Homo sapiens: one gene and its partners. The protein of the gene in region 2 interacts with the protein of the main gene of each other region in a pairwise test. Each region holds a gene or a part of one and is shown on either strand. Other genes may lie near its edges. The genes, in order: GALNT2, MRM3, UBIAD1 and GAD2.

Evidence for each region.
Region 1: the proteins of MRM3 (region 2) and GALNT2 interact in binary tests that used the Homo sapiens proteins (3 or more experiments, as listed by UniProt).
Region 3: the proteins of MRM3 (region 2) and UBIAD1 interact in binary tests that used the Homo sapiens proteins (3 or more experiments, as listed by UniProt).
Region 4: the proteins of MRM3 (region 2) and GAD2 interact in binary tests that used the Homo sapiens proteins (3 or more experiments, as listed by UniProt).

The regions. Positions count from the first base shown.
Region 1 is NC_000001.11:230,062,651-230,070,295, reverse strand, and holds the start of GALNT2 (polypeptide N-acetylgalactosaminyltransferase 2 precursor), read right to left. Parts: upstream 3,059-7,645; 5' UTR 3,016-3,058; coding exon 2,890-3,015; intron 1-2,889. UniProt on the Homo sapiens protein: Catalyzes the initial reaction in O-linked oligosaccharide biosynthesis, the transfer of an N-acetyl-D-galactosamine residue to a serine or threonine residue on the protein receptor.
Region 2 is NC_000017.11:785,257-792,406, forward strand, and holds part of MRM3 (rRNA methyltransferase 3, mitochondrial isoform 1 precursor), read left to right. Parts: intron 1-620; exon of another isoform or gene 621-639; intron 640-2,708; coding exon 2,709-2,876; intron 2,877-6,277; coding exon 6,278-6,813; 3' UTR 6,814-7,150. UniProt on the Homo sapiens protein: S-adenosyl-L-methionine-dependent 2'-O-ribose methyltransferase that catalyzes the formation of 2'-O-methylguanosine at position 1370 (Gm1370) in the 16S mitochondrial large subunit ribosomal RNA (mtLSU rRNA), a conserved modification in the peptidyl transferase domain of the mtLSU rRNA.
Region 3 is NC_000001.11:11,268,260-11,276,220, reverse strand, and holds the start of UBIAD1 (ubiA prenyltransferase domain-containing protein 1), read right to left. Parts: upstream 3,024-7,961; 5' UTR 2,690-3,023; coding exon 2,161-2,689; intron 1-2,160. UniProt on the Homo sapiens protein: Prenyltransferase that mediates the formation of menaquinone-4 (MK-4) and coenzyme Q10. MK-4 is a vitamin K2 isoform present at high concentrations in the brain, kidney and pancreas, and is required for endothelial cell development.
Region 4 is NC_000010.11:26,219,643-26,226,792, reverse strand, and holds part of GAD2 (glutamate decarboxylase 2), read right to left. Parts: intron 2,907-7,150; coding exon 2,816-2,906; intron 2,255-2,815; coding exon 2,142-2,254; intron 1-2,141. UniProt on the Homo sapiens protein: Catalyzes the production of GABA.

The DNA of each region.
Region 1 (7,645 bases), on a different chromosome or scaffold from region 2:
GAAGTGCAAATCATCAATTTAGGGGGAAAGAGCAAAATATGGGGGGAAAGGGTATGGACACAAATGTAAATGAAACATAATTTTAAACAATATTTTGAATAAACTGCTTTAACATACATGTCCTGAGCCTGGGTGTTGAGTCCCGAGTTGTGCGGCAGTGCCTGAGATTGGTCTTCAGCACTCCCTCCTGCTTAGTTTACTAAACCTGCAATCTGAGGTGAGCTGGCTCTCTGGGTTTTGCCAAGTGGAGAATAACAGTTCTGTGATGAGTTACTTAACAGGCAGGGCACACAATGACAAGCCTGGGCTGGGCTGCTGAAGCAGCAGAAATCCTAGTTGGACTCCCCTCAGACGATCCCTAAAGCCCAATACTGCAGCCTAGTACCCTATGAAAAACGTCAGGATGTGCAGAAACTGGCTAAATATGGAATAAAAGCCCTGACTTGAACAGTATGAGGCAAGAGAAAAAATATAGGTCCACTTATCTCTAAAAAAACTATAGCTAGCTTTTAAATTCTGCCTTTCTGTGCATGGCCCGCTATCTTTTTTTATGTCCATACTTTACAAGCCAAACAAACCACATTTTTTTTTTGGTATGAGAATGAAATAAATTTAGAGACACTTCTAGTGTCTAAATCCATGGAAACAATTGGGGAAGAAAGAAGACTACACGATTTTCCTATACATCAGGCATTCGTGACAGCAGGGCTCTATTTACCTCCTTCAGAAACCATCTTAAGGCTTCTCTTTAACCCTGGGTCCACCACACGAAGTTAATGAGTCTTCCACTGCAATTTCAAAAGCTATTGCATTTACACACCTCTTCCTCAACCGACAAATCACTAAAGCATCCTAAGGGGTAGCATTAAATTTTATGGTTCGTTGACAGAAAGAATAGAATCCCAAATCACCAATCCATGTGTAATTAATTGTTCATTTCCCCCACTTTTTCTACCTGGTCTCCGTACCTGTCTATATTGCCACCAGGAATTCTTTAAAAAAAACAAAACAAAACAAAACAAAACAAAAAAAAACAAACTAAGAATCACACACTTCAGGAGTGTCTGAAGACTTCTGCATGGAAGACCCCTCACACCATCCAGGAACTGAAGCCCACCAGAGTGAGGAATCAGCCTCCGGGAGGCGAACGAGCACGCTTGCTCTTTCTAATCACGTGTACTAATGAAAGTGGCAGACTAAGGAAAGAGAAACGCCAAGGGTGGCTTATGTGTTTGGTTTTCTTTGCATGAAAGGCAGAAAGCTTTGCCAGGTCTCACCAGCACACCAGGCTATGCAGAGTGGCCAAGGCACAGTTTACCGGGAAGCAAAGTTTTAAAAATCATTCCAGTTTTACACGATTATATCTCTGAATGGACTGCACGGCTTTTGCTGCCTGCATGCTCTTTGCTGTTCAAGAATAAACCAAGTCTTCGCGTACATATACTACCTATACCATTTTTTACAAAAACAACGCTAAGAGTACAATGTCAGCTCAGAAGCTAGGCCGATTCAGCACGTGGAAAGAGGGCTTTATTTCTGCCCTTCTAGATAAAACAAATCCACGTAATTTACCAGAAACCACATAAGGCACCCATTCCACCTAACATCTTCGGCTATGAATGAATGAATGAAGCAAAGAAAAAACCTCTGAAGCAGCCAAACCCCGGCGTGGACATTTAGGGGTCTGACTTCAGAACTGAAGTCTGTTCATCTAGTTAGTTCCCTCTGGCTTGTTTCAGGATACCACTCTCTTGTTCCAACCCAACCACCCGTAGTCCATCTCCATTAACTCAGAATTTTCTGGGTTTGCGGTGACACTAAATGTCACAGTAACGAGGGTTACAGGAATTCGGAAAAGATAACGCTGCTTTCAAAGCCGAGGAGCCAGTAAAACACTACAAACGTCCCCTGCCGGCATGCTCCAGCACACAGCCCGACGCCCTGCTCTCCCGGCCGGCGCTCGGCCGCAGGACCGCGCTGTCCCGGCTCCTCTCGGCGCTCACCATCCTCCCGAATGCCCAGGGCCCGGCCGTCCGGAGCGGCGGCACGAGGACGCGGAACCGCAGAGCGGCTCACACGGTCCCCACAGCCAGATCACTCGGCCCCTGGAGCATGTTAAAAACACAGCCACAGAAGAGGGATTCTCCCTGAAGCGGGGAGTGGGGATGGAAAATGCAAGCGCAGGAGGCCACGTCCGGCTCGCGCGGGAGGGCCGGGGGCCGGGTTGGGCAGAGGGTAACGCTGGGGCCGCAAGGGAACGGCCGGGACTGGCCTCGCTCGGGGCGCAGGGGCGCACTGGCCCCTGGCTCGCACGGGCCCTGGGGCTTTACTTGGCACGGGAGCGGCCGCCCCTGCCCCCCAAAGGTAAAGGGCAAAGAAGGTGGCAGAAACACGGAACCCACGCCCCGCGGAGTGACAGGGGGAAAGGGACGAGGATTTGCAGCCGCTGGTATCAAAGGGCTGAAAAGAAACTTGGACTCCTCTCTCCTGCTGTACATGACGCGTTGGAAAAGCGGTCGCCTCTCTCTCCTCTCCTCCCCACCCCCTTTGTGTTTCCCAACACCCCCATCCCTAAACTTCCAACCGCAGGGGATGGGGCTCCCGGCGGCCGGACAAGACTCGAATTACGACGAGCAGAGAGAGGGGCGACGTCCACGAGAGGGGGCAGAGAAAGGCTGCGGGGGCCGCCCTTTCGGAGCCCGGCGTGCGCAGAGGGGCCGGGTGCACCCCTGCCCTGGGCACTCGGCGCGGAGGCCCGGGACGAGGGCGGGCGACGCGAGCGGAGGTCCGGGCGGAGGAGCGCAGGGGCGGCGCGGAGAGGGCAGGGGACAGGGGCGCAGGGTGGGGGGTGGGCGCAGGGGCCCGGCCGCGGCAGGGCGCTCCACTCACCTTCCTGCCGGCGCCGCCGCCCGCGCCCCCGGCCAGCGCAGAGCCGCCCCCCGAGTACATGTAGTAGGCGATGCCCAGCACCCACAGGAAGGCGAAGCAGAGCAGCATCCGCGAGCGCCGCCGCATTCTCCCAACTCGGCCGCCGGCGGGGCCGCCGCTGCTCGCGAGTGCTGCCTGGGCCGGCCGCGGGCGCGGTGGGGGCCGGGGGAGGAGCGGAGGAAGGGGAAGGGCGCGGCGGCGGCTCCTCCTCCCGCGCGGTGCTACTGCTCGGCGGCGGCGCGCACTCGGCGCCCGAGCTCCGCCCCGGGCCGGCGGCGCCGCGCGGCACCAGAGCAGGAAGCAGCGGCCTCGGAGGCGGCGAGGGGGGTCAGGGAGCAAAGGGCGACCAATCGGCGGCGGCTGCGGGGGCCGGGGCGCGGGCCGCGGGAGGGGACTGCCGCGTCTCCATGGCTGCAGCACGCCGGGCTCCGCCGTGAGGGCCTGGGCGCCGCCCCGCCCCCGGCCGCCCGCCCCTCAGCGTGCTCCCCCCGCCGGCCGCCCCCTCCCCCGTGAGTGACAGGTGGCTGCCCCGGGACCCGACTGGAGCGCGCGCACACGTGGGCAAAGAGCCTTGCTCACGCACACGGGGCCTCTCGATTACGGGGGCGGTAGTGGCCTCGGTGCTTCCTGCCCAGACTGTCACCTCTTCAGCCTTGGTCTTTGGGGCCACCTCAGACCCTTAACGGGCTTGCTCTTATTGGCCAACTGACCTGAGTTTTTGGTGCAAACCGCCCGCTTGAACCCGACTTTGCTGCTGCTTGCTGCAGTTTTCTCACTAATCTTGCAGCAAAACATTCCTGACCCGCTGGTATCGATTTTATTTATCTATATAGGCAGATGTGGAGGTTTTGAGTTGGTAGGAACTGAGAAGGTAATTTTCAAAAGAACATTTTTCTGTGGGTGACAGAGCTATCAATGGTAGAGTTGTTCTTTTCAATAAACACAAAATGAGGAAGAAGGAAAGCAATAATATATTGTTTAAAATCTTTTCTTTCTCATTCGTTGCGTTCTTTAAAAAGCACATTAAGCATCTTTAACGATACAAGAAAACGATCTGTCTTGTAACATAATCTATGTAACCTTGGTGATGCCCTTGCAACACGCAAAGCTTCCAGTGTTCCTAAGAAAGACAGAAATTTTACTTAGAACTTGATATATTAAATGTTTTCAGGAGCTTCTCGGTCAGAGGATAATGGCAGCTGCCTGATATAAGTCCGTACCCATATCCTCAACGAAACAAAAACAAGCCTTCAGCATTACTTAGAGAGAATGCCATGAACTGAACATTAAATTACTTAAGTAGAAGAAAGAAAAGATACCAAATTCCAACTGAGCTCCCTCCACTATTGCCAAGGACTTAAGTGAAGTACAGGGTTGTCACCTCTTTATAAATAGAAAGTCCAACACCAAGAACTAAAAACTGAACAGAGGTCAGGTGCCTTATTGATCAAGGGAAGAGATTTGAAAGAAAATGGGACAAGAGGTGAGAGGCTTGAAGGAGCCTTGTTTCTGGGAAAAAGTCAGATAAATACGAAAAGAAGATAATGTCCTTCAGAGGCCTGACAATGAAGGGAAAGAAGGAAGTCAGAAGGGAAAATTACAAATCCTGCAGAAATGAAAGAGAAGACAGCCAGTCCCCTCCCCAAACACCAACATTATCTATTAAAAACTGCATTTCAGTACACAGATAAAAGAAAACACTCTTGAACCGGGAACCCTGCCTCAAAATGCCTAGTAACAGAAAAACATCAAATCAACTGCATTTAAAGATTCTGCAAAAAGAAAACAGAAATCACATTTCTGATGATAAAAAATAAATCATAACATTTTCGCTGATGAAAACCCCCACAATAAAAACCATGAAGCATAAGAAAATTGTAATACCACATGTCAAACTGAACAAAGTGTCACGTATTTGTATACACATACACACACACACACATATCTAGGATAAGAAATTTCAAGAACTGAAGACAGACTAGACAAAAATTAGGAAGAAATGCAACAAGGGTTGAGCAAATTCAAGAAGGAAATTGAAAGTAATGACAAAAACTATCCCAGAAACAAAGAATAATTACAAGGTGTCCAAGGGAAAATATATTCAAATGAAAATATGTAAAAGGACACTGAAGAATGGCAAGAAAACAATCAAGAAATTGAAAATAATATAAAGATAGAAGTAAAAAGGTTCAGAGAGAAGAGGTTAAAATAAAAGCCAGGAAAGGAAGACCAAAATACATGTTAAGTGGAGTCCCTAAAGTACAAACATTAAACAATAAAACCTAATTAATATTAAAACTATAACCCCAGAAAATAATCCAGGAATAAGGGAAAATTTAAATGTACATGTCAAAAGTGACTTCCATGTACCTTGGGAAATGATCTGGAATTATCAACTCCTAAATATATTTTAGTAAAACGATTAGATTTTAAAGGCAAAAAAGATCAAATTGCTTATAGAGATAAAAATTTATGCTGGCATCAGACTTCTGAACAGCAACATGCAAAGCCAGGCAACAGTGGAGCAGCATTAACAAGGAACAAAAGTGCCAGGCAGGCTGGGCATAGTGGCTCATGCCTGTAATCCCAGCACTTTGGGAGGCCAGAGTGGGTGGATCACCTGAGGTCAGGAGTTCAAGACCAGCCTGGCCAAAGTGGTGAAACCCCATCACTAAAAAAAATATGAAACTTAGCCGGCAGGTGCCTGTAATCGCAGCTACTCGAGAGGCTGAGGTGGAAGAATCATTTGAACCCGGGAGGCAGAGGTTGCAGTGAGCTGAGATCATGCCATTGCACTCCAGCCTGGGTGACAGAGCGAGACTCCATGACACACACACAAAAAAGTACCAGGCAGTGATTTTTATACCCAGCCCTCAAGTGTCAAGGTTGTAGGCAAACAGATATGACCTGAATGCAAAAATTCAGAGAACGTGACTCACATGGGCCTTTCATGAGGAATCTTAGAGAATGAGCTTCCTCCAACCAAGAGACAGCTGAGGAAGCCAGCAGAGTGACTAATGGAGAGCATTTTGTATATTCAGAAGGTGAAAGACTAGTGTATATACATTATACTTTCTGATAAACTTAGAACAGGTGCAACTAAAGACAACTGGAGGAGAAGGGGAAGAGCGAAGGGAAAATAGAATAATATCATTGTCTGCAATATCAGTAGCAGGTAGTAGTGAAAGGATACCATATAAAACAGACAGACCAGATGTTAAAAGGTTAGAAACAAAATATAGGAATTAAGGGTAATATATTAAAAATATAAATAAAAATCACTACAACAAAATATATGTATTCCCAAATATTGGAAACCCTATTCCAAAACCCCAAAAGTTCTAAAAATAGCAAAGAATACATACCAAATAATGAAAGAAACACAGTAAGTGTGGCACAGTGATGCAGTAGTTATAATAGGAAACAATATGACACAGCTGAGACCAACCCACATCAGATATAACAATTTATAAGTGGGCTCAGTTCACCCTTTAAAATAAAAGATTTTCAAATGTAGGCATAACGGAAACCCCAACTCTGAAAAAGCAGGTGCTGTGATTCTGATATCAAACAAAACAGAGTAGGCCAAAAAGCATTAAATGAGATGAAGAGGGACAATTTATAGCCCAAAACTTCCCTTCCTAAACACTTATCAATTGTATATCATTAGGATTTGATCTGCAAAGTAAAATCATTATTAGTTTGATGGAATAAGCGATGTATGATAGAGATTAAACTTTAGACAATGTTAGAGGTAGAAGAAAAAAGGTTATGGAAGTCTTTCCATTGTACATGGGGCAGGTCTGAAGTCACTGTAGTTTCTAGACCTGGGAATCAGAAGAATAGCTAGATGTGACATGGGGCATTTCAAAGACAAAGTCAAAACTGCAAGGACAAAATGTACCTCATGAGAACAACTAGAATTCATGAGGACAAACTGTAATGTACCTCCAGTGTTGATTATGGAAATAAAAAACAAAACACAACAAAAACCCACAGTGAGATACCACTTCATATCCATTAGGATAGCTATTATATAAAATTTTTTTTTTTTTTTTTGGTGGACACTTGCTCTGTCGCCGAGGCTAAAGTGCAGTGGCACAATCTCGGCTCACTGCAACCTCCACCTCCTGGGGTCAAGCCATTCTCCTGCCTCAGACTCCTAAGCAGCTGGGCCTACAGGCATGTACCACCATGCCCTGCTAATTTTTGTATTTCTAGTAGAGACAGGGTTTCACCATATTGGCCAGGCTGGTCGCAAACTCCTGACCTCATGATCCACCTGCCTCAGCCTCCCAAAGTGCTGGGATTACAGGTGTGAGCCACCGCGCCCAGCCTATAAAACATTTTTAAAATAAATAAATAAATAAATAACAAGTGTTGGTGAGGATGTAGAGAAATTGGAACCCTTACGCACTGCTGTTGAAAATGGTATAGTGGTTCCTCAAAAAATTAAATTTAGAACTACTATATGATCCAGCAATTCCATTTCTGGTTGTATACATAAAGGAATTGAAAGCAGCGACTCAAACGGATATTTGTATATCCACATTCATAGCAGTGTTATTTACAGTGGCCAAAGGGTGGGACAACACAAATATCTATCAACAGATAAATGGACAAGCAGAATGTGGTATATCCATGCAATGGAATATTATTCAGCCCTAAAAAAGAAGAAAATTCTAACACATACCAGAACATGGATGAACGTTGAGGA
Region 2 (7,150 bases):
GTGAATAACTTCATCTATACCACAGCAATTTCATGTACTCAAAGCCATTTTTAATATTGTTATTAGCCTTTTTCCAATTTTTCTCTTTTCCCATAAATTCTTTCCATAAAACTTTAGAGATTAATAATGTAGAGATTATATAATGTAGATTATTATATAATGTATATATAATTTTATCATGTAGAGATCATTAAATAAGGAGAGAATTTTCCACTAAGAAGGCCACTTAGGGTTTTCATTTTCCCAGATAGTCCCAGACCCCATTTTACTCCTTTGTATTAGACTGAGGACAGAGCGGTCGCCAGTAAGTGGCTGTACCCATTCTAAAGCTCCCAGGCTTCTGGACCTCCAGCGTGAGGCCTTGGAAGTGACTCAAGCGTTCACTGCACCTACAGCCCCTTCGTTTTGCAGAGTATGTCCCTAAGACAGTGCTTCTGAGCCAGCGTATTTGAAAAAGGGGTTGTTACTTTGATGCATTCAAGTTTTGAAATTCATATTCTTTTTCCTAGGAATGTAGTTTGAATTTTAAAATGAGTGATAAAGGAAAGATAAATCAGTATAGCAGGCTAATAATTGTTTTTTAAATATTTAAGCCTATAAACTATTTTTTAAAAGCCTACCTGGTAGGAAGATGGGCACAGGTTGTAGAAACAAGACAGTTAAAGGAGCACAGGAATTCACTGAAGAAGATCGCAGTCAGTCAGTAAGGTGTTTAGCTTCTCTAGTAATCAGAGAAAAGGCAAGTTAAAATAATGGCATGCTGTTTTTTCTATCACATTGGGACAAATGGAAACAAATGATAGACCCGCTTTTAAGAAGGGTTTGAGCTGGAAAACAGGTTTTGTTTTGTTTTGTTTTTTGTTTTTGAGATAGTGTCTCTGTTGCCCAGGCCGGAATGCAGTGGCGCGATCTTGCCTCACTGCAACCTCCACCTCCTGGGTTCAAGCAATTCTCTTGCCTCAGCCTCCTGAGTAGCTGGGATTACAGGCATGCGCCACCATGCCTGGCTAATTTTTGTTTTTTGTTTGTTTGTTTGAGACGAAGTCTCGATCTGTCGCCCAGGCGGGAGTGTAGTGGCGTGATCTCCGCTCATTGCAAGGTCCGCCTCCCGGGTTCACACCATTCTCCTGCCTCAGCCTCCCGAGTAGCTGGGACTACAGGCGCCCGTCACCACGCCCGGCTAATTTTTTTGTTATTTTTAGTAGAGACAGGGTTTCACCGTATTAGCCAGGATGATCTTGATCTCCTAACCTCATGATCCGCCCACCTCAGCCTCCCAACATGCTGGGATTACAGGCATGAGCTACCGTGCCTGGCCTAATTTTTGTATTTTTATTAGAGACGGGGTTTCACCATGTTGTTCAGGCTGGTCTCAAACTCCTGACCTTGTGATCCGCCCACCTCAGCCTCCCAAAGTGCTGGGATTATAGGCATGAGCCACTGCGCCCAGCCGAAAACAGGTATTTATGAGTTCCTGATGTGAATAAACTGAAAGAGCCTGTGTGAACGTTAATAGTGCACGCACATCATTTGTCCATTTCACTCACAGGTATTTATGCTAGAGAAATTTTTAGACACATGGACAGACAGTCCTACAGGGATACCCATTGCAGCAGCATTTGTAACAGGGAAAAATTCAAATAATTTAACAGTCCATAGGGGAAGAGCTAAATGAACTGTGGTACATTCATACTACAAAATAGAGGCTGGGCATGGTGGCTCACAACTGTAATCCCAGCACTTTGGGAGGCCGAGGAGGGTGGATCACCTGAGGTCAGGAGTTCGAGACCAGCCTGGCCAACATGGCAAAATCCCGTCTCTATTAAAAATACAAAAAATTAGCCGGGTGTGGTTGCGGGTGCCTGTAATCCCAGCTACTTGGGAGGCTGAGAGGCAGGAGAATTGCTTAAACCCGGGAGGCAGAGGTTGCAGTGAGCCAGCATTACACCATTGTACTCCAGCCTGGGCAACAGAGTGAGAGAGTGGGACTCTGTCTCAAAAAAAAATAGCCTACAGCAGTTAAAGGAAAAAAGTAGCTTCAAACATATTGACATGGTAAGTTCAAGATATATTGTTGCGTAAATAAGTCGATTACAGAATAATACAGAGTATGACACGGAATGTAAAACACATTTACATATGGACAGGTGTGCATATATATAGGTAGATGCATAGAACAAGTTCTAAAAGGATACACTCCAAAACAGAACAGTTGAGGGGGAGGAGAGTGGTACTGGTAGAATTTTATGTTGTTTGAATTTTGCCAATCAGAATGTATTCGTGGTTTTTTTTTTCCTTTTTTTTCTTTTTGAGAGGGAGTCTCACTGTGTCGCCCAGGCTGGAGTGCAGTGGCGTGATCTTGGCTCACCACAACCTCCACCTCCCAGATTCAAGCGATTCTCCTGCCTCAGCCTCCCAGGTAGCTGGGACTAGAGGCATGCGCCACCACGCCTGGCTAATCTTTGTGTTTTTAGTAGAGACGAGGTTTTGCCACGTTGGCCAGGCTGGTCTCGGACTCCTGACCTCAGGTGATCCACCCGCCTTGGCCTCCCGAAGTGTTGGGATTACAGGCATGAGCCAGTACACCTGGCCTGTATTCCTGTATTTTTATGTAACTAAGACCATATCAAGATTGATAAGTAAATGAAAAGTCAGACTATTCCCCGTGCCCACACCAGGCAAGTAAACCACCTGTTTTGTTTCCTCAGGGATTTTTGCCAAGCCTGACCATGTTAAGATGACATATCCAAAGACTCAGCTTCAGCATTCACTGCCTTTATTATTGATTTGTGACAATCTCCGTGACCCTGGGAACCTGGGGACAATTCTGAGATCTGCAGCTGGGGCAGGCTGCAGCAAAGTGTTACTCACCAAAGGTAAGGACATCAAAGGCCAGGCATAGTGGCTCACACTCGTAATCCAGCCCTTTGGGAGGCCGAGGCAGGAGGGTCACTTGAGCCCAGGAGTTCAGGACCATCCTGGGCAACATAGTGAGACCTCATCTCTACAAAAAAAACTACAATTAGCTGGGTGTGGTGGGGTGTGCCTGTACTCAGTCCCAGCAACTTGGGAGGCTGAGGTGGGAGGATTGCTTGAGCCTGGGATGTCAAAGCTCATCACATGTCAAGTGAGCTCATCACTGCACTCCAGCCTGGGCGACAGAGTGAGACTCCCTCTCAAAAAAATAATAAACCAGGTGGATTAGTTGGTCTGGTCTTTTTTTTTTTTTTTTTTTTTATTAAAGAGATGGGGTCTCACTATGTTGCCCAGGCTGGTGTTGAACTGGCTCTGACTCAAGCAGTCCTCCTGCCTCAGTCTCCCAAAGTGCTGGAATTATAGGCATGAACAACTATGCCCAGCCAAGTCAATCACTGTTAGGTGAGCTATGGCTCTGGGCAGGCAGACATGCATTGGATCTTGGGTCTGCCTTCACTAGCTGTGGTCCCTGAGCAGTAGCTGGAATGACAGGCATGAATAACCACGCCCAGCCAAGTCGACCATTGTTAGGTGAGCTAGGGCTCTGGGCAGGCAGACACGGCTTTGGATGGGTCTGCCTTCACTAGCTGTGGTCCCTGAGCAGTAGTCCCTGAAGTGTCAGCTTCCTCGTTGGTGAACTGGGAGGAATAACAGAATCTCCCTGGTCACTGTGAGGATTAAGTGAGATGATGCACAGAAGTTACTTCATACCTTACCTGCCTCACGAGTAATTCAGTCAATGTTGATTCTCTTTTTTAAAAATTATGTTTTTTGTAGAGACGGGGTCTTGCTGTGTTGCCCAGGCTAATCTGGAACTCCTAAGCTCAAGGGATCCTCCTGCCTCGGCCTGTCAAAGTGCTGAGATTATAGGCATTAGCCGCCATACCCAGCCATGTTTATTATCTTTTAAAATTATCATGAAACCTGCTAGGCTGTTAGAGAACTTCACATCGATTATGGAAAAGAAATAGATGCCAATTTTAACACTTGGTTTCTGGTTCTTTATGTAATGATATTGAGTTCCCAAATTGCTGAGTATATGAGCCACTCCTGAGTCTTGACTTCTGAATCCTATGAAAGGAATGACGTCAGCAGCTCTGAATCCTAATGTCATTGTGATCCGTTTCCCTTAGATTCCCTTAGCCTCAGCGTGGGTCACATGCCCCGCACACAAATTCGCCTCATTACATTTCTGTCTCTTCTCATCAGAAATAGGGATTAATAGGCTTGGCTCTAAACAGACTTTCCTCACAGTTGGAGCACGCCTAAAATGTCTCTTACACCTTGGGAGGTGGAGGGGACAGAGAGTACCATTCATCAGAAACACCCCAGCCACCATTAAAAGTAAACTAATAGTGGCACCCGTTGTTGAGACTTGCCTAAATTGCTGCTCGCAGCTCTTTCTCAGTCACGCCTTGCTAGAATACGTTTCTGTGCCAGTGTGAGAGCTACGTGCTGGGGTTCTGTGATCAGTACCCGCTTACTCGCCCCATTATTTAGTGCTCTGATAGCTGTTGTGGGATTTGGAAATAAATCTAAATAATCCAAGCATTGTGGTTTTCACATTGATACTGATGGCTGGGGTGTAAGAAATAGGGAAAGAAGGTAGGAAATACTTGGTGTGGTGCCCAGTATCCAGGACATGAGGATGACGGGAGGAGTCTCGCCTTTCCCCTTTCCCTTCTCCCCTCCAGGCAGAGGGGTCAGCCTCGGCCGCTCCTCTCACACGCCTGGGCCTATCTCTGGTTTCCTGCAGGGAGAGGGAAAGCCCGTGGCTGGGGGTGCAGGCGCTGTTACATCCTCTGTGTCTTATTCTCCGTTTAAAATCTGGTTTGCCTGGTTCGTCTATCCCGAGGTTTGACAAATGAACTTCTAAAATAACTCGTCAGGAGAAGACTTGCGCTAACAAGCTGTGCGGGGGAGGGTGGGAGGCCATGCAGTCACTGCGAGGCCCCACCCTCGGCCACTCTCCCAGCCCGCCCGTGGTGAGGAGCCGCCCCTGGGAAAGGCCAGGCGTCGCAGGCTGCTGCCGGGGTTGCCTCTTGCCTCATTGCCTCATCTCTAGAGTGTTCCCTGCTCCGGTGCAGACTGAACGTTGAAGCCCAATGGGTCTTGATGAAACTATAGATCTGATTCTGTCACTGCTTTGCTTAAGATCCCTCAATGGCATGATACTGTCTTCTGATAAAATGCCAAACTCCTCAGCTTCCCATAGGAGGCCTCCTCCGTGTTGGCCTGCCCACCTCCCACCTCCTGTGCCACTACAGCCCCAGCGCTGATTGACCGGCTCACTGCCTGTGCCACCACACCCCCACCCGCTGATTGGCTGGCTCACCTCCTGTGCCGCCACAGCGCCACCGCTGATTGGCCGGCTCACCCCCTGTGCCGCCACAGCACCACCAGTGATTGGCAGGCTCACCTGTGCCACCACACCCCCACCCGCTGATTGGCCAGCTCACCTCCTGTGCCACCACACCCCCCCACCCGCTGATTGGCCACCTCAACTGTGCCACCACACCCCCACCGGCTGATTGGCTGGCTCACCTCCTGTGCCGCCACAGCGCCACCGCTGATTGGCCGGCTCACCCCCTGTGCCGCCACAGCACCACCAGTGATTGGCAGGCTCACCTGTGCCACCACACCCCCACCCGCTGATTGGCCAGCTCACCTCCTGTGCCACCACACCCCCCCCCCACCCGCTGATTGGCCACCTCAACTGTGCCACCACACCCCCACCGGCTGATTGGCTGGCTCACCTCCTGTGCCGCCACAGCGCCACCGCTGATTGGCCGGCTCACCATGCTTGCAGTCCTTAGGCTGCGCCACTCTCCCGCTTCCTCTCCTAGCTCTGTCCTCTGCCTGGGCCTTTATCTCAGTGTGGTGGTCTTTTAGATGGTTTTCCTCATCGCCCTGCTTTGTCCGTGGGTTTTCTATGACTGTGTGGGTGCTTCTTTTACATCAGTTACTGATACTGTAGCCATCTGTTTAATACCACCCCACTACACTGTGCGTTCCTTGGGGTTGGGGACTTTCATTATCTTTGCATCTTCTGCGCAGTGTCTGGCACGTGTGAATGGGAGATGTTGAAGGGATGCATAAAATATCTTCAGCACTAGCAGGAGTGACTCCTATAGTCGCTGTGCTGGATGCTGTCAGAGAGAGGCAGAAGGTCCCATCCCTCAAGAAAGCTATCATAGAAGAACTGGTTTATCTCCTGATCCAAAATTGATCAGACTTACTCCACAGTCCCCTGGTCTGGGAAGATTTGTAACATCTTGATTGTTTCCTTTTTATTTTCCAGGCTGTGTGGATGCCTGGGAGCCCAAAGTGCTCCGGGCGGGTATGGGCGCACATTTCCGGATGCCCATTATCAATAATCTGGAATGGGAAACCGTGCCCAATTACCTGCCCCCTGACACTCGGGTCTATGTGGCTGACAACTGTGGCCTTTATGCCCAGGCTGAGATGTCTAATAAAGCTAGTGACCATGGCTGGGTGTGTGATCAACGAGTGATGAAGTTTCACAAGTATGAGGAAGAGGAAGATGTAGAAACCGGAGCCAGTCAAGATTGGCTGCCTCATGTTGAGGTTCAGAGTTACGACTCGGACTGGACAGAGGCGCCGGCAGCTGTGGTGATTGGCGGGGAGACCTACGGCGTGAGCCTGGAGTCCCTGCAGCTGGCCGAGAGCACTGGTGGCAAGAGGCTGCTGATCCCCGTTGTGCCTGGTGTGGACAGCCTCAACTCGGCCATGGCGGCAAGCATCCTGCTTTTCGAAGGGAAAAGACAGCTGCGGGGGAGGGCGGAGGACTTGAGCAGGGACAGGAGTTACCACTGAGGACGCAGAAGTGACTTCTGCTTGAGGACGTCTGCAGCTCCTCCTACACCAGCACACTGGTGGGAGGCTGGCGGAGTCAGTGACTATGGCCCCCACGTTCAGGAGGAAGGTGTGATGCCGTCATACAGTTACAGGAAAAATAAGAACTTCCTCAGAAAGAACAGGTCCGAATTCTTCCTGTCGCGTCACTGATTTTGAGGTTCTTTTTTCTCTTGGTGACAATAGGTGACCCACGTGGCTCTGTGTGTTTTTAAAAATTGTCCACCAAGAAGCACTTTGTGCCCAGAAAGTTCCTGAAGCATCATCCTGGCAGGGAGGCGCCTGCTCCACCAGCTGG
Region 3 (7,961 bases), on a different chromosome or scaffold from region 2:
TTCCACTACCACCCGCTAGATACAAGCCACCAAACATCGCTTGCCTGGATTATTCAAGAGCTTCCTACTTGGTCTTCCTGCCTCTACCCTTGCCCCACTCCCCTTGATCCATTCTCAATACCTTACCCAGAGCAATTCTTTTAAAACATTATATTACATCACTCCCTTGCTCAAAGTCCTGCAGTGGCTCCTCCATTCCAGAGCCAAGACCAGTGGCCTACAAGGTCTATATAATCCGTGTGTGTGCCTCCTTACCCTCCCCAAACGTACTTCTCTTACTTTACCTCTCTTTACTCTCTCCTTCATTCACACACTGGACTTCTTGCTGCTCTGTAAGCTCTTTGGACACATTCCTGCCTGAAGGCCTATGGCACTTGCTGTTGCTTTTCCTGAAATGCTCCTCTCTCAGATATCTGCTTGGCCAACTCCCTCACCTCTTACCTCCTTCAATGTAACTCAACTCAAATACTACCTTTCTGAGGCATGGTCTCACTCTGTCGCCCAGGCTGGAGTGCAGTGGTGTGATCAGGACTCACTGCAGCCTTGACCCCTGGGCTCAAGCAATTCTCCCGCCTCAGCCTCCAAAGTAGCTGGGACCACAGGCAAGCACCACCATGCCCAGCTAATATTTTTTATTTTATATTTTATACAGACAGGGGTCTATGTTGCCCAGGCTGGTGTTTAACTCCTGGCCTCAAGCGATCCTCTCGCTTCAGCCTCCCAAAGGGCTGGGATTACAGACATGAGCCACTGCACTCAGCCAAATGTTACCTTTTTGATGAAGCCTACCCTGATCAAACTACTTAAAATAGTAATCTGTGTCCCATTCTTTGCTCTACTTTTTTTTCCCATAGCACTTATCATCTTTCATATACTATAATCAGGGTGATCAATTCAACCTGACTTACCAGGAACTTTTCTGGTTTTAGCTCCAGAAGTCGCACATCCGACTTAGTCCTGTCACCTTAGTCCTGAGCAAACCAGGATATTGGTCACCCTAACTATAATTTTCTATTTTTACTTTCTGTCTCTTTTCATGATAATACGTAAGTTTCACAAGGGCAGGGATCTGTGACTGCTGTGTTCACACAGAACAGTGCCTGGCACATAATAGGTGCTCAATAAATAGGGCTTACCCACCTGCCCATCACTACCTTAATCAGCCTCTTGCAAGAAGTCACCTAGCAAACTAGCTAGAAGTAATTATCTATATCATTTTGAACTCTTCAGATTTAATTCTAATATTTGAAACTGTGGCATTATAAAGTATGAGTGATTAAAAAAAAAAATGAGACAGAAAAAATGTCCATATAGGCCGGGCATGGTGGCTCACGCCTGTAATCCCAGCACTTTGGGAGGGCAAGACAGGCAGGTCATGAGGTCAGGAGTTCAAGACCAGCCTGGCCAACATGGTGAAACCTTGTCTCTACTAAAAATACAAAAATTAGCCAGGCGTGGTGGCACATGCCTGTAGTCCCAGCTACTCGGGGAGCTGAGGCAGAAGAATCGCTTGAAGCCGGGAGACAGAGGTTGCAGTAAGCCGAGATGGTGCCACTGCACCCTTGCCTGGGCAACAGAGCGAGACTCTGTCTCAAAAAAAATAAAAAAAATTAAAAAATGTCCTGACAGGGCGCGGTGGCTCACGCCTGTAATCTTAGAACTTTGGGAGGCTGAGGCGGGTGGATCACGAGGTCAGGAAATCGAGACCATCCTGGCCAACATGGTGACACCCCGTCTCTAATAAAAATACAAAAATCAGCCAGGCGTGGTGGCGTGCACCTGTAGTCCCAGCTACTCGGGAGGCTGAGGCAGGAGAATCGCTTGAACACGGGAGGCAGAGGCTGCAGTGGGCCGAGATCGCACCACTGCACTCCAGCCTGGGCGACAGAGCGAGACTCCGTCTCAAAAATGAATACATAAAAAATAAATAAAAATAAATGTCCATATAAAATTTTCAGTCATGCCCTACGTCCGTAAGTCAAACCAGGATCTTCTCAAATCACTGTTTCAAAAAATTCACATCACCCACAATTATAGACTTCAATTAAAGCGGCTTAAATTAGAAAGCCACCTTTGACATCCCTATAACTCCTTTACAAAGCAGCGGTTTCCAGTGGACGCGACTAAGACCTGCAGCACACAGGACAGGCCAAATCTTACCTCCTGTGTAGAGAAAGGAGCCAGACAGGCCTCCAAAGTAGATAAGAGCCAAGTGCTCCAGTTTCAGAGGGGACAGGTAGTAGAGGCAAGCGGCACAGACGCAGCCCAACGTGTAGAGGAAGACTCCGAACCGGACGACATCCTGCGGCTCCAAGATTCGGTCCACAAGTGTCCTGTCATCACTCTTTTTGTGGTCAATGCCCTTGGAAAAGTCATAGTAAGTGTTGACCAAATTACCGGCCCCGTGCACAGCCAGGACAGCCACGGCACAACCCACCAAGAGCCTGGGATCCAGGACACCGTGGGATCTGTAGGCAAGGGCACTGCCCAGGGCCACCGGTGTGAGTGAGGCACTGAAGCTCCAGGGCCTCAGGGCCAACACGTAGGAGGCACACTTCTGCCTCCAGGAGCGCTGGGGGAGCCTATCTTGCTCGGGACAGTCGTTCCCCAGCGGGTCCCTGTCCCCAGCTTTGACAGTCTCTCCCGACAGGATGTTAATCTTCTCCCCCAGGACCTGAGAGGCCGCCATGGAAGCTCCACGTGGTTGAAGTAAACTCTAAAAGTGAGCCACGCACAGTGACCGCCCGGGAAGGAGGAAGGACGGGGCGGGGCAGCAGGGCCCGACCTTCCTTCGGTTCCGCCCCAGGACAGGGCTGGTGTGGCGGCAAGGTCCGGGGGCAACAGCAAGTGGGTCTTACACCCCACGAGGCCAAGCGGCGCCGCCCCTACTACCCGTCACCTGGGCGAAGTCTGTCTCCGGCCCCCAGCCCCGCGTTAGAGCCCACGGCTGAGCCGCGGCCGCCTTCTTTAGGCCGCCAGAGCCGCCATCTTGTGCGCCGGCCTCTGGAGGCCCGCCCGGAAACAGGTGCCGGCGGCGCGGGCTGGACCGGAGGGTGGGCTGGAGGGCGGGAGGGGGCGGGGCCGAGCCAGAGGCGGGGAGAAGGGCGGTGAGGGGTGGGGGGCGGGGGCCTGGTCAGAGGCGGGGCGGGCAGGGCCGAGTCAGAGGAGGGGCGGGGTCAGAGGCGGGGAGAAGGGCGGTGAGGGGTGGGGCGGGGCTGAGGGGCGGGGCCAGACCGGTGGTGGGGCGGGAGGGGGCGGGGCCGGGGCGGGAATGGACCGGGAGCGGGGACGGGCCAGGAGCTGGGGCCGGGCGGTGACCCGGCATCCAGCCCTTTTCCTGCCTGCACTGCGCCCCGCAGCTACTTCCAGACTAACTGCAATCAGCCTCTCTTAGCATCATAAGAACTCGAAGGCGTGTTGCTTTAGGACTTACCGGGCGCACTTTCATTCACGAAGTAGGATTCATTAATTTATTCATGCTACAAGCATTTATTGAGCGCCTGCTGTGTGCATACATTCTGACGTCTATCATATCTGCACCGTGGAAATACTCTATGATGTGCTACTGCTCACCTCTTATCAGCTTTTCATTCAGTGACATCCTTCAGCAGCTTGAAATCTGCCCATGGTGGGAGAATTTACACCACGCAAATCAGCAAATGCTTAATAACTGCTAAGTCGTCTAGACTTAAGAAAGTGGCGGAGAAAATGTTCATATTACTGGTTAAACTTAAAAGTGTTGGAGGGTGCGGTGGCTCACGCCTGTAATCCCAGCACTTTGGAAGGCCGAGGCAGGCGGATCACTTGATGTCAGGAGTTCGACATCAGCCTGGCCAACATAGCGAAACCCTGTCTCTACTAAAAATACAAAAATTAGCCGTGCGTGGTGGCAGGCACCTGTAATCCCAGCTACTCGGGAGGCTGGGGCAGGAGAATTGCTTGAACCCGGGAGATGGAGGTTGCAGTGAGCCAAGATCATGCCAATGGGCTCCAGCCTGGGCAACAGAGTGAGACTCCATCTCAAAAAAAAAAAAAAAATTAGCCGGGGGTGGTGGTGCATTCCTGTAATCACAGCTACTCGGGAGGCTGAGGCAGGAGAATTGCTTGAACCCTGGAGGCAGAGGCTGCAGTGAGCCAAGATCACGCCACTGCACTCCAGCCTGGGCAGTAGAGCGAGACTCCGTCTCAAAAAAGAAAAAAAAGAGAGAAAAAAAGTGTGTAAGTGAATGCACCAAAACTTTGAGGAAATATTCGTTCAGCATTGGCAAATTATTATCCAGTTGAACAAATAAGTCGCTTGTAGCCTTGACAAACTAGTGAAGTTCTGACATATCTCTTTTGATTGTTTCACTTTCCTCTTACTCCTAACATAAAATATCAACCAACATTCATGTCTGAACTATGCTCATTGATCAATTGGGACCATAGGGAAGCTACACAACATCAAAGAAAGCATACTGTGAGAACTGGCTATATGGAGTTTACAATAGAGTCCTGTACTGTATATTTTAGTATTTGTAAACTGTATGCTACACATCATTTACATCAGTGAAATTATAATACACATGCAACATAGATGCACACAGGACTGACTACATAATTTGTGGTACCCAGTGCAAACTAAAGAGGTGGAGCTGGGGGTGATAATGTGTGCCTGTAGTCCCAGCTACTCAGGAGGTTTTTTTGAGACGGAGTCTTGCTCTGTTGCCCAGGCTGGGGTGCAGTGACACAATCTCGGCTCACTGCAAGCTCCGCCTCCAGGGTTCACACCATTCTCCTGCCTCAGCCTCCCGAGTAGCTGTGACTACAGGCGCCCGCCACCACGCCCGGCTAATTATTTTGTATTTTTAGTAGAGACAAGGTTTTACCGTGTCAGCCAGGATGGTCTCTATCTCCTGACCTCGTGATCCGCCTGCCTCAGCCTCCCAAAGTACTGGGATTACAGGTGTGAGCCACCGCACCCGGCGGGAGGATCTCTTGAGCTCAGGTTAGAGACCAGCCTGGGCAACAAAGTGAGATCTCCGCTCTAAAAAATTAAAAAGACCAGATGTGGTGGCTCACACCTGTAATCCCAACACTTTGGGAGGACAAGGCAGGTGGATCGCTTGAGCCCAGGAGAAGACCAGCCTGGACCACACGGTAAAAATCGAAGAATTAGCCAGGTGTGGGCCAGGTGCAGTGGCCCACGCCTGTAATCCCAGCACTTTGGAAGGCCGAGGCGGGCAGATCATGGGGTCAGGAGATAAGACCATTCTGGCTAACATGGTGAAACACCATGTCTACTAAAAATACAAAAAAATTAGCCAGGCGTGGTGGCAGGCACCTGTAGTCCCAGCTACTTGGGAGGCTGAGGCAAGAGAATGGCATGAACCCCGGAGGCGGAGCTTGCAGTGAGCCGAGATCGTGCCACTGCACTCCAGCCTGGGCGACAGAGCAAGACTCCATCTCAAAAAAAAAAAAAAAGAAAAAGAAAAAGTAAAAGAATTAGCCAGGCGTGGCAGTGTGCACCCGTGGTCCCAGCTACTTGGGAGGCTGAGGCGGAAGAATCACCTGAGCCTGGGAAGTTGAGGCTGCAGTGAGTCATGATTGTGCCCCTGCACTCCAGCCTGGGTAATAGAGTGAGATCCTATCTCAAAAAAATAAAATAAAATCAATAAATAAGTGGGGCCAGGCCAGGCACGGTGGCTCACGCCTGTAATTCCAGCACTTTGGGAGGCCAAGGTGGTCAGATGACCTGAGGTTGGGAGTTCAAGACCAGCCTGACCAACATGGAGAAACCCCGTCTCTACTAAAAATACAAAATCATCCGGGAGTGGTGGCGCATGCCTGTAATCCCAGCTACTCAGGAGGCTGAGGCAGGAGAATCACTTGAACCCGGGAGGTGGAGGTTGCGGTGAGCCGAGATCGTGCCATTGCACTCCAGCCTGGACAATAAGAGCAAAACTCCATCTCAAAAAAAATAATTAATTAATTTAAAAAATAAAAAAAATAAGTGGGGCCTCTTGTTCAAAATCATTAACAATTGCAAAACAGAGCATGACACAGCTGTGAAGCTAGCTCTGTACATGTCTGCTTCCACTTACCCCCAATCTGGTTGTTGAACATTACAACTTCACCACTCAACACAGAGCTTTCTATGCTGGCCAAACCCATGAGTCATACAATGTCAAATCAGACAATATATCAGCAGATAGATTAAAATCCTGGCTCTATCACTTACCAATTCCATGTCCCAATATCTCTGTTCTTTGGCTTACTTATATATAAGGTGGGAACAATACAACCTGCCTCATAGAAATGCTCAGGAATAATAGTAAACAGCATTTATTGACTTTTCACATGAGCCATATACTTTGTTTGCTTTTGAGACGGAGTCTTGCTCTGTCGCCCAGGCTGGAGTGCAGTGGTGCGATCTCGGCTCACTGTAACCTCCACCTCCCAGGTTCAAGTGATTCTCCTCCTCAGCCTCCTGAGTAACTGGGATTACAGGCGTCTGCCACCATGCTCAGCTAATTTTTATATTTTTAGTAGAGATAGGGTTTTACCAAGCTGATCTCGAACTCCTGACCTCAGGTGATCCACCTGCCTTGGCCTCCCAAAGTGCTGGGATTACAGGTGTGAGCCACCATGCTGGGCCAAGTACCTCTTTTAGGTACTTTACGTGTGGTATTAGCGTTTAACCCCCACAATACTGCCTACCAACGAAGAGACTATAATCCTTCCAGTTTTACACATAAGGAAATAGGTACAAAGTGTTGCAGCCAAATTTCAGATTCAGTTAGTTTGACTTGACTCCAAGCTGCTTTTAACAAGTACTCTATAATGTCCACCAAAATCCCTGATACACTGTAAGTGCTCAATAAATATTAGCTATTATTTTAGTGTAATGCATAAGAAAGTTCTTTGTAGTGGGAGTTGAACAATGAGAACACATGGACACGGGGAGGGGAACATCACACACCGGGGCCTGTTGGGGGTTGGGGGGCTGGGGGAGGGATAGCGTTAGGAGAAATACCTAATGTAAATGACAAGTTGATGGGTGCAGCAAACCAACACGGCACATGTATACCTATGTAACAAATCTGCACGTTGTGCACATGTACCCTAGAACTTGAAGTATAATAATAAAATAAAAAGACTTGCAAAAATACAATAAAAAAGAAAGTTCTTTGTAAACAGAAAAGAAACCGACAAACGCACTTATTACTGTTGCTATAAAATCATCTTTGATTATTAATTAGAAAACAGGGCTGTATCATATCTCAGGGTGGCAAAAATCTCCTATATGGCTGATGGGAATAAAAATTGGTACCTCCCTTATAGAGATCAACTTGACAAGATTCAACAAAACTGTCTAACCCTGTAATCCCATTTCTGGGAATTTATCTTGATATAGCTGTCAGGGAAGAAAATGATATACGTACAAAGGCATTCACTGCAGCATTTGTAATAGCACAAATTTGGACATAACACAAATGTCCATTCACAGAGGACTGGAAAATGAACTATGGCACAGCCATGTGATAGAACACTATGCAGCTGTAGCAACAACAAAAGGACAAGAAACTCTGTGTGTACCAAGATGGAAATGAAACCGTCCCAACAAACTTTATAAAATTAATCAGGGGCCAGGTGCGGTGGCTCACACCTGTAATCCCAGCACTTTGGGAGGCCAAGGCAGGCTGATCACTTGAGGTCAGGAGTTCGAGACCAGCCTGGCCAACATTGTGAAACCCCGTCTCTACTAAAAATACAAAAATTAGGCTGGACACAGTGGCTCACACCTGTAATCCTAGCACTTTGCGAGGCTGAGGCAGGCAGATTACCTGAGGTCAGGAGTTCAAGACCAGCCTGGCCAACATGGTGAAACTTTGTCTTTACTAAAAATACAAAAAATTAGCCGGGTACAGTGGGGTGCGCCTATAATCCCAGCTACTCTGCCGAGGTGCACACCTGTAATC
Region 4 (7,150 bases), on a different chromosome or scaffold from region 2:
AAAGGACTTTCCATGAAGCATGAAGGCTTTGGATATTATTGATGGAGCTATGACACAGTATGTTTTAAGTCACAGACCTAACTCTTCACATTGAGTCCCAGGGAATGAGACTTTTAGATCCCAGATGCATAAGATGTGTGGCTTTCTCTATCCCCACCCCTTAAATTGTAAGACCCTTTACTGCAGGAGCAAGGCTGGTTGCTCCCGGGAATAGCATCCATAGCCAGTAAGGATGTGATGAGCCACTTCTCGTCTGTGATGTCTTGTAGAAAGTAGAGCAGAAACAGGTTGCAATGACCTTTTCTGCTGTCTCCTCCCAACTTTGCAATGTCTGCACTGCACTGTAGTGTGACATCTATGGCTTGCATCTTGGCGTAAGAGCAAATGGGTCTTTAGGCTCCAAGGAAGCCTATAATTCCCATGCTCAAGCTGAAGTCTTCTCCATGTGAAAATCCCCCATTATCAGTGAGGGTGGAGGGTAAGCTCTAAGCCTAGCAGAACTGCCTAAGAGAATTATTTCTCTGGGTGTATGTTTTCTGGGGCATGTAGGTTTTTCAGACCAGCCAGGTAAATTAGGCCTAGCTGTTAGTCAAATTAGTCAAATTTTCAGGGTCAACAGGTACATCTGTCCTCTCCCTACTCCCGGGGACCATTAAAACTTATGCACGGGAATAAATTCAGCATAAAATAAATGCAAATAAAAGAAAAAAAAATAGAGCCCAGCATGTTCTTGATTCATCTCAGGGACAGATCAATCCTATAACCAACCACACAAGGGTGGGAAGAAGAAAGGTAGAAATGATGTGGATCTCTGTACCCCACCTCATTCCTCATGAACAATGTTTTCAAAGCATCAGGCAATGATGACCAAGCTCCCTCAACAGGGATGGCTTTCCAAAGGAAAACTAAGTACTAAGTGCCATAAAAAATAAAGGCTAGCTTAAAATTCATCACAGCTGGTGTTCAATGACTTTTTAAAAGGCTAATTTTCCCTTCCATTTAACTAACACCTTTTCCTTCAGCACCTGAAAAATTGTGCTATATATTTAAACACATAAAATAGCTGACCAGAGCTTGCAGGCAAACATGCTTAACTTAAGCCCTGGCCTTGGGGTCACTCTTGCTTATCATTTCTTCTTTTCACTTTTTCTTTTCTCCCCTATCCCCGCCTCATCATTTGCTTGTCTTTGTAGATTTGCTGAAGAGAGAGCACAACCACTTGGCCTTTGCTCTGTCTGACACAACGACAGGTGTTGCTCTGGCCTCTCTCTCAGGTGGGTCCTGTCTCAGTGGACTAATGACATCCGCTCCTGCCACTGATTAGCTGATGGTCTGCACATCGGGTTTCTTTTCCATGGGTCAGTGACTCTCTTTGCATTGCCTTCCTAACTTCTATTTCTTTTCTGCATCAAACCAAGGTCACACACAGAACTGTAAACCAAGGGCACAGCTTTTTGTTTCAGGTTGATTCTCTTGGCTGGAAGAGGTCTAAGTAATGGAGCTTAGAATTCAATGGCTGGTGATAAAAAGGCAGGATGGAAAAGACTGAATGGCATGATAAAGAAGAGAAGGGATGAGAAATCTCTTGAAGAAATCGTCACCCTCTATTTTTGCTCTAAGAAATTCTCTCCCAAAGCGTTCTCTGTCCTCCTTGAAATTAGTGTAAATCCACTTTGGTGCTTGTTATTTCAAAGACAGAGTGGTCCATATGCTCTACTGAGTAGATATACCTTGCTATGCACCCTTGAACAGCAAATGCTTTATTAAATGAGGCTACCCATTTCCTTTCACTAATTCTAGGAAGAGCATCAGAGAGTGAATTTCCTGATTAGGAATCTTGATTCCTTTGTTCCACATTATCCGTACATCCTGTTTGTAGGGTCACAGTAGAAGCACTGGGTAAGTACCATCTCTGATTATGCTCACTTTGCACACAAATAACTGATGTTCAAGCATGGGTTACTTAGCTTGGAGGCATGTTCAATGGTCATGTGCACTTAATCACAGTCATTCTTTTGATCAACACACAGTCTATTTAACCTAAGCAGAGGCATAGGCTAGATTTTTAATCTTCCCTAGGTTTACAACAAGGCATTGCATATTAGAAGAAAAAACACAAAGAAAGTTGAAATATCATGTACCGGGAGAAAATATCCCATCGCCAGAGCCCCCTGGCCAGCCAATGATTTCTCTCATTTTCTTTAGTGTGACATATTCCAAAAGCACAAATACTGGAGCAATTTCATAGGTGAACCTGAAATGTAGTAATGGCCACATTTTACCTCTGTAACTCAGATAAATAATTTACAATCATTACAATAGCTACAGAACTATTTCCTTTTTCAAAACATACATTTACAAGTGTTATGATTATAACATTAAGCAGAGAGAAAATTATTTCAAAAAGGCCTTCCAAAATGTTTATTTTTTCTATATCCCTACAGTCAAGAGCTCCAACTACTGACATAATGCACGAGGGGAATTTATTGTATTGAATAAATAAAAAATATTGCAGAGTAACATGATTTAAAATATAATATCTGGTCCCATTTGTCTTTGACATTATGCACAATAATAAATCAAACGTGAGAAAAAAGTCTCTTTTGTATTTTAAAAATTTTGTAGAGTTTGATTACATGGAAGATGTATCAGGACTACTTTCTGTTACATTAAAGTGAACACTCACACTTCAGAAGTTTGTATCACTATTTTAGTGGCTACTTAATAAAAAACAGATTTTCACATAAGATGTAAAGACTATGGAATGTCACTAATAATTATCCTAAATTACATAAAAACACATTTGGCTACTTACATGTTAGTATTTGCTGTTGATGTCAGCCAGTCTGCTGCTAATCCAACCATATCCAAACCAGTAGAAAGTTGATTGAAGTATCTAGGATGCCCTGAATAAAATGGAATACCAGAATCAGGATTGCCTCCAGTGAAAATAAATGCCTCTCAAACACATGATTTCTCTAGCTAAAGGACCTTGAAAGATCTGTCAGTAACAGGAAATCCATAAGTAGAAATCCAACATGTACACACGTGTGTATGCACAAGAACACACACACACACACACATGCACATACACACACACACACACCATAAAAGCGTTTCCTCTAACCACGAAGACTACTTTAGGTTTTGATATTTCTTAAAACATACCCTACAAATCTTCCTTTAATCGGACCCTATAAATATAACAAATATGGTTTGCAATCTGCATGAGTCTCTTTTCTATTTTCAATATTTTCGCAAGCTAAAATGCTACTGCAACCCACAGCCATTCAGACAGGTAACTTCTCCTTTATACTCATGCTGCTAGAAGTCCTTTTTTGTAGTCGTTCTGAGAATCGGTCATACCATGACATCCGCCAGGCATGCCAACATTCATAATAATATCAGTGACAAATGGCTGATGATTACAAAAGACAGGGCAAAAATGAGAAAATAGGACACTCTGCTGAATGATTTGCCCTGGATTCAAAAGGTGATGATTGTCTAAAGATGGCATGGACAAAGCTAATTCTTGTCAATTCTTCTTTGTTAATTATAAACAACAGCGCTCCTCCATAGTTGTGATTTAAAATAAGGCCACATACAGTCAACATCACTGTTTTATCAACAAGATACAGAAAGATATACTCAATCGACTGATTAGTCCATCGCAAGGCTTATCTAATTAACTTCTAGATTCCTCTAAAACTCTCTAAATGGATTGACATCCACACTCTCCTGAGGCTATTATTTAAAATGTGATTATAAATATGTCATTAGCATTCAGTTTTCTCCTCTTGCTCCACAAAAGCCTGTCATCGATAGGTCCGTGATTTGCACAGCAGCAAAAATTTTAGAAGATGGGCCATTGTGGAAATAGCATCTGATAAAAAGGTATCTTCCACATCCTGGACATCTGTCTGAAGCCTGGGATGTGATTGTCTCTCATCTCCAGCACAGGCAAAACAAGATAAAGGAAGGCAATGGGGAAGAGCAGGGACAAAAGTCAATGGCTAGCTTATCTCCTGCACTGGAGTGCTCTCTTATCAGCCTCAGGCATGTGGCCAGACAGACACTGGGTAAAGATATAAGCTGGGAGGGAGCCCATTTTAGCGGGATCAGGACTTGTGTATCTATTGTACATTCTCCAGCATTGTTTTATGTCCTTGTGGCCTCGTGTGGTACCCCTCTATCTCTGATGCTGACCCCCTCAGTTTACCCATCCACGAAGGGTGAGAAGGCTTTTTTGCTGCTGTGGCCACTGAGGTCTGGAGCAACCCTTCACTCCTCTCTGCCTCATTGACTCCCCATTTCATTATGCTCGCAGCTGAAATCACAGCCATTTCCTCCCTCCCGATGCTCCTTCATTTCTCTTTCCCTAACCCTTTTTTTTTCAAGTGAGGAAATTAATAAGGATTATAATTCATATTCATTTTCTGGATGAATGTGGTGTCTATGATTAGACAGTATTTAACTCTAGGGAAACTTGGGAATGAAAACCTGTGCATAAGATGGAGAGAGATTGTGAGGGGTGTGTTGTGCCTCTGGATATCAGAAGGCCAATTCACCCTGATGATAACTTTCCGTAAACAGTGAAAACAGGTTTGACGCTTTCATTGCTAGGTTTCCCTTCCTCCCTATATATATTTTGACCTTGCTCTGCCATTTCACCTGAATCTCTCCTGCCTCAAAAATTTCATTCCCTGATGATGATGTGAAAATAGGGAGGGAGATAGTTTGACAGGTCAGATCAACAGGCTCTCTCGATTTCTGGCAGAAATATTCCCCTAGTGACATTTGCTCCCATCCTGTGGCCCCTACAGGCTGCTTCCTAGGGCTGCCCAGCAAATCAAGGCAGGGCTCTCTCCAAGGAATTGTGAGACCTGCCCCCATAGGTCAGGTGTCCCTGCAGCCCTTGGCCTCCTGCTGCTGTCGCCACCCTGCCAGGCCCTGTGATGGGAGCAGAGCGCACTGCGTCAGCCATTGGGTGGCCACACAGCCTATGCAGCCAGGAAGGTGGCGAGCTTGAGATGTGAGAACTGGCTGCTCAGACTCAGGGATGCTCCCTGCAGACTAGCAAATGAGCCCGGAAGGATGCGCAGACTCTGCGAACAACCAGCCTCAGGCAACTCTGACCCTGTGCTCATGATCAGTTGGGAAGAGGCCAAAAGTCGGTCCAAACTGCTCTTTATGTCCTGGCAACACTCACACTAGGGCTGCCTCATCTACTGACGCTTAATTCCCTTTGTCTGATGGTTTGGTAAAAGATTCAGGACCACATTTAAGTCCTACTCTTCCCCAGCCAGCACCACCACCACTAGCACCAAATCTAATGATCTCTGCAAATGCAAATTATTCTGGAATTCTATCATTCTCTGCTCAGTTTTCCGTGTTCCAACATTTCTTTTTACAGAGGTAATTTTAACAATCCATGAAGACTTCATTTTCCCACTGCCCTTCACTCCTCTCTAAGCTTGGAGCCCAAGTGGAAATCAGGTTAAGGTCTCTCAGTAGAAACAAGATGATAATATGCATTTTATAAAATAATCTCTTGAGGAGTATTAAAATGTCTGGTAGTAGCAAGGATGGTAACTAATTTGACATACCCTAAATAGCATTAGATGACAAGTATGACAGTTATAGCACAGAAATCTATAAAGTTGCCAGCTGAATAGAGAAAATGACTGCTGTTAATTTTTTGAAATGCTATTTGAAGGAAAAGGCCAGCAGACTAAATATGTTATGAAAACTATTGAGAGATTGAATTGATATGCCTTGCTTAGAAATCCAACTTAATCCATCACATTTTTATCTGAACTTTAAATAAAATGCATTACAGTGACACCTAACAGTTTCATAAGCATTATGGCAAAATGTAAGTATTGAATTAGCCCATCTTTTCCTGGCACTAAATGCAACGTTGATAGACAGAACTATTACTTTCATTGACTTGCAGTTCCCATTATCTTAACTCTGTAGACTGCATTTCAGGCACCACTAGCTTTCAAGGATGAAGACACAAAACATTTCCATAGGTTCTTTTTGGTTTGGTAGCAATACAAACAATAGGTGGCAATTTACTATTAACGTATCTAAATATAAGGTATGGGGAATGGGTCAAAAAATGAATTAAAAGCATCACCCAGGATTGCACTATGAATGCAGGAAAAGCTGAGGAGGGGTAGGAAAATTTTTAATGCCTGGTATAAACATCACGTGGGTTCTTCATGAACGTTAATTGAGGATGATGTCTAATACACCTTCAAAACTCCTATTCCATAGCCTGACTTTGATAGAAATCTATGTCCCAAGGCTTTTTGTATGCCTACCTTTCTTCTCTGTTGGTACAAATAATGTGAACAAAAAGAAAAAAAGAACTAAACTTCTCACAGCAAACATTTTAAGAATGTTTGTTATTGATTAGCGTAATACTGCTAATTCATCAGCAAAATGTTTGCAATCTAAAAAGATGACGTTTCTATGGTGATGAATGTTCATGTCATATTTCACATTTTTTATTTGCTAGCAAATCTTTTAAAGGCTACACATCAACTTCGATCCACAAAGTCCTCCCCACCCCTGGAAATTCATTCATACTTATTTTTATTGCCGTAATGAAGTGTCAGCCATCGTGTATCAGGATGATTAGAGACAACGTAAAAAGCGAGGGTAATCAAGACCTGGGCAGATGAATGGCTGACTTTGTGTAGATAACATGAAAGCTCGGAATGCACCCAAATAAATGTTATAAATGAAGCTGTAATATGGATGGAATATAAAGACTCCTGTGAAAAGCCAAGAGACCACAAAAGTACATTTAAAAAAATTTCCCCCTAAGGATATCTGATTTGCCCCTCCCCCCCTTTTTCTTTATCTCACATATACAGTGGCTGGGAGGAACACACATCCTTATATAACATGGCTGAATTGCTAAGCTAGTCTGTATCATGCCTGCTTGTGTGTTGTGCACATTTCCTTAAAAATAAGTGAAAATCTGAATTCAAATCTGAAAGGTTGGCCATTTGACACAATGTGAAAACATCCCTCCCACTCAATGATTAATAGGGTGGTGAGTCCTGTTTCTGATCAGTTTTATGCCAAAGAAAATACCAGCACAGCACTGGTATTCGGGCTTTTGTTTGGATCACGC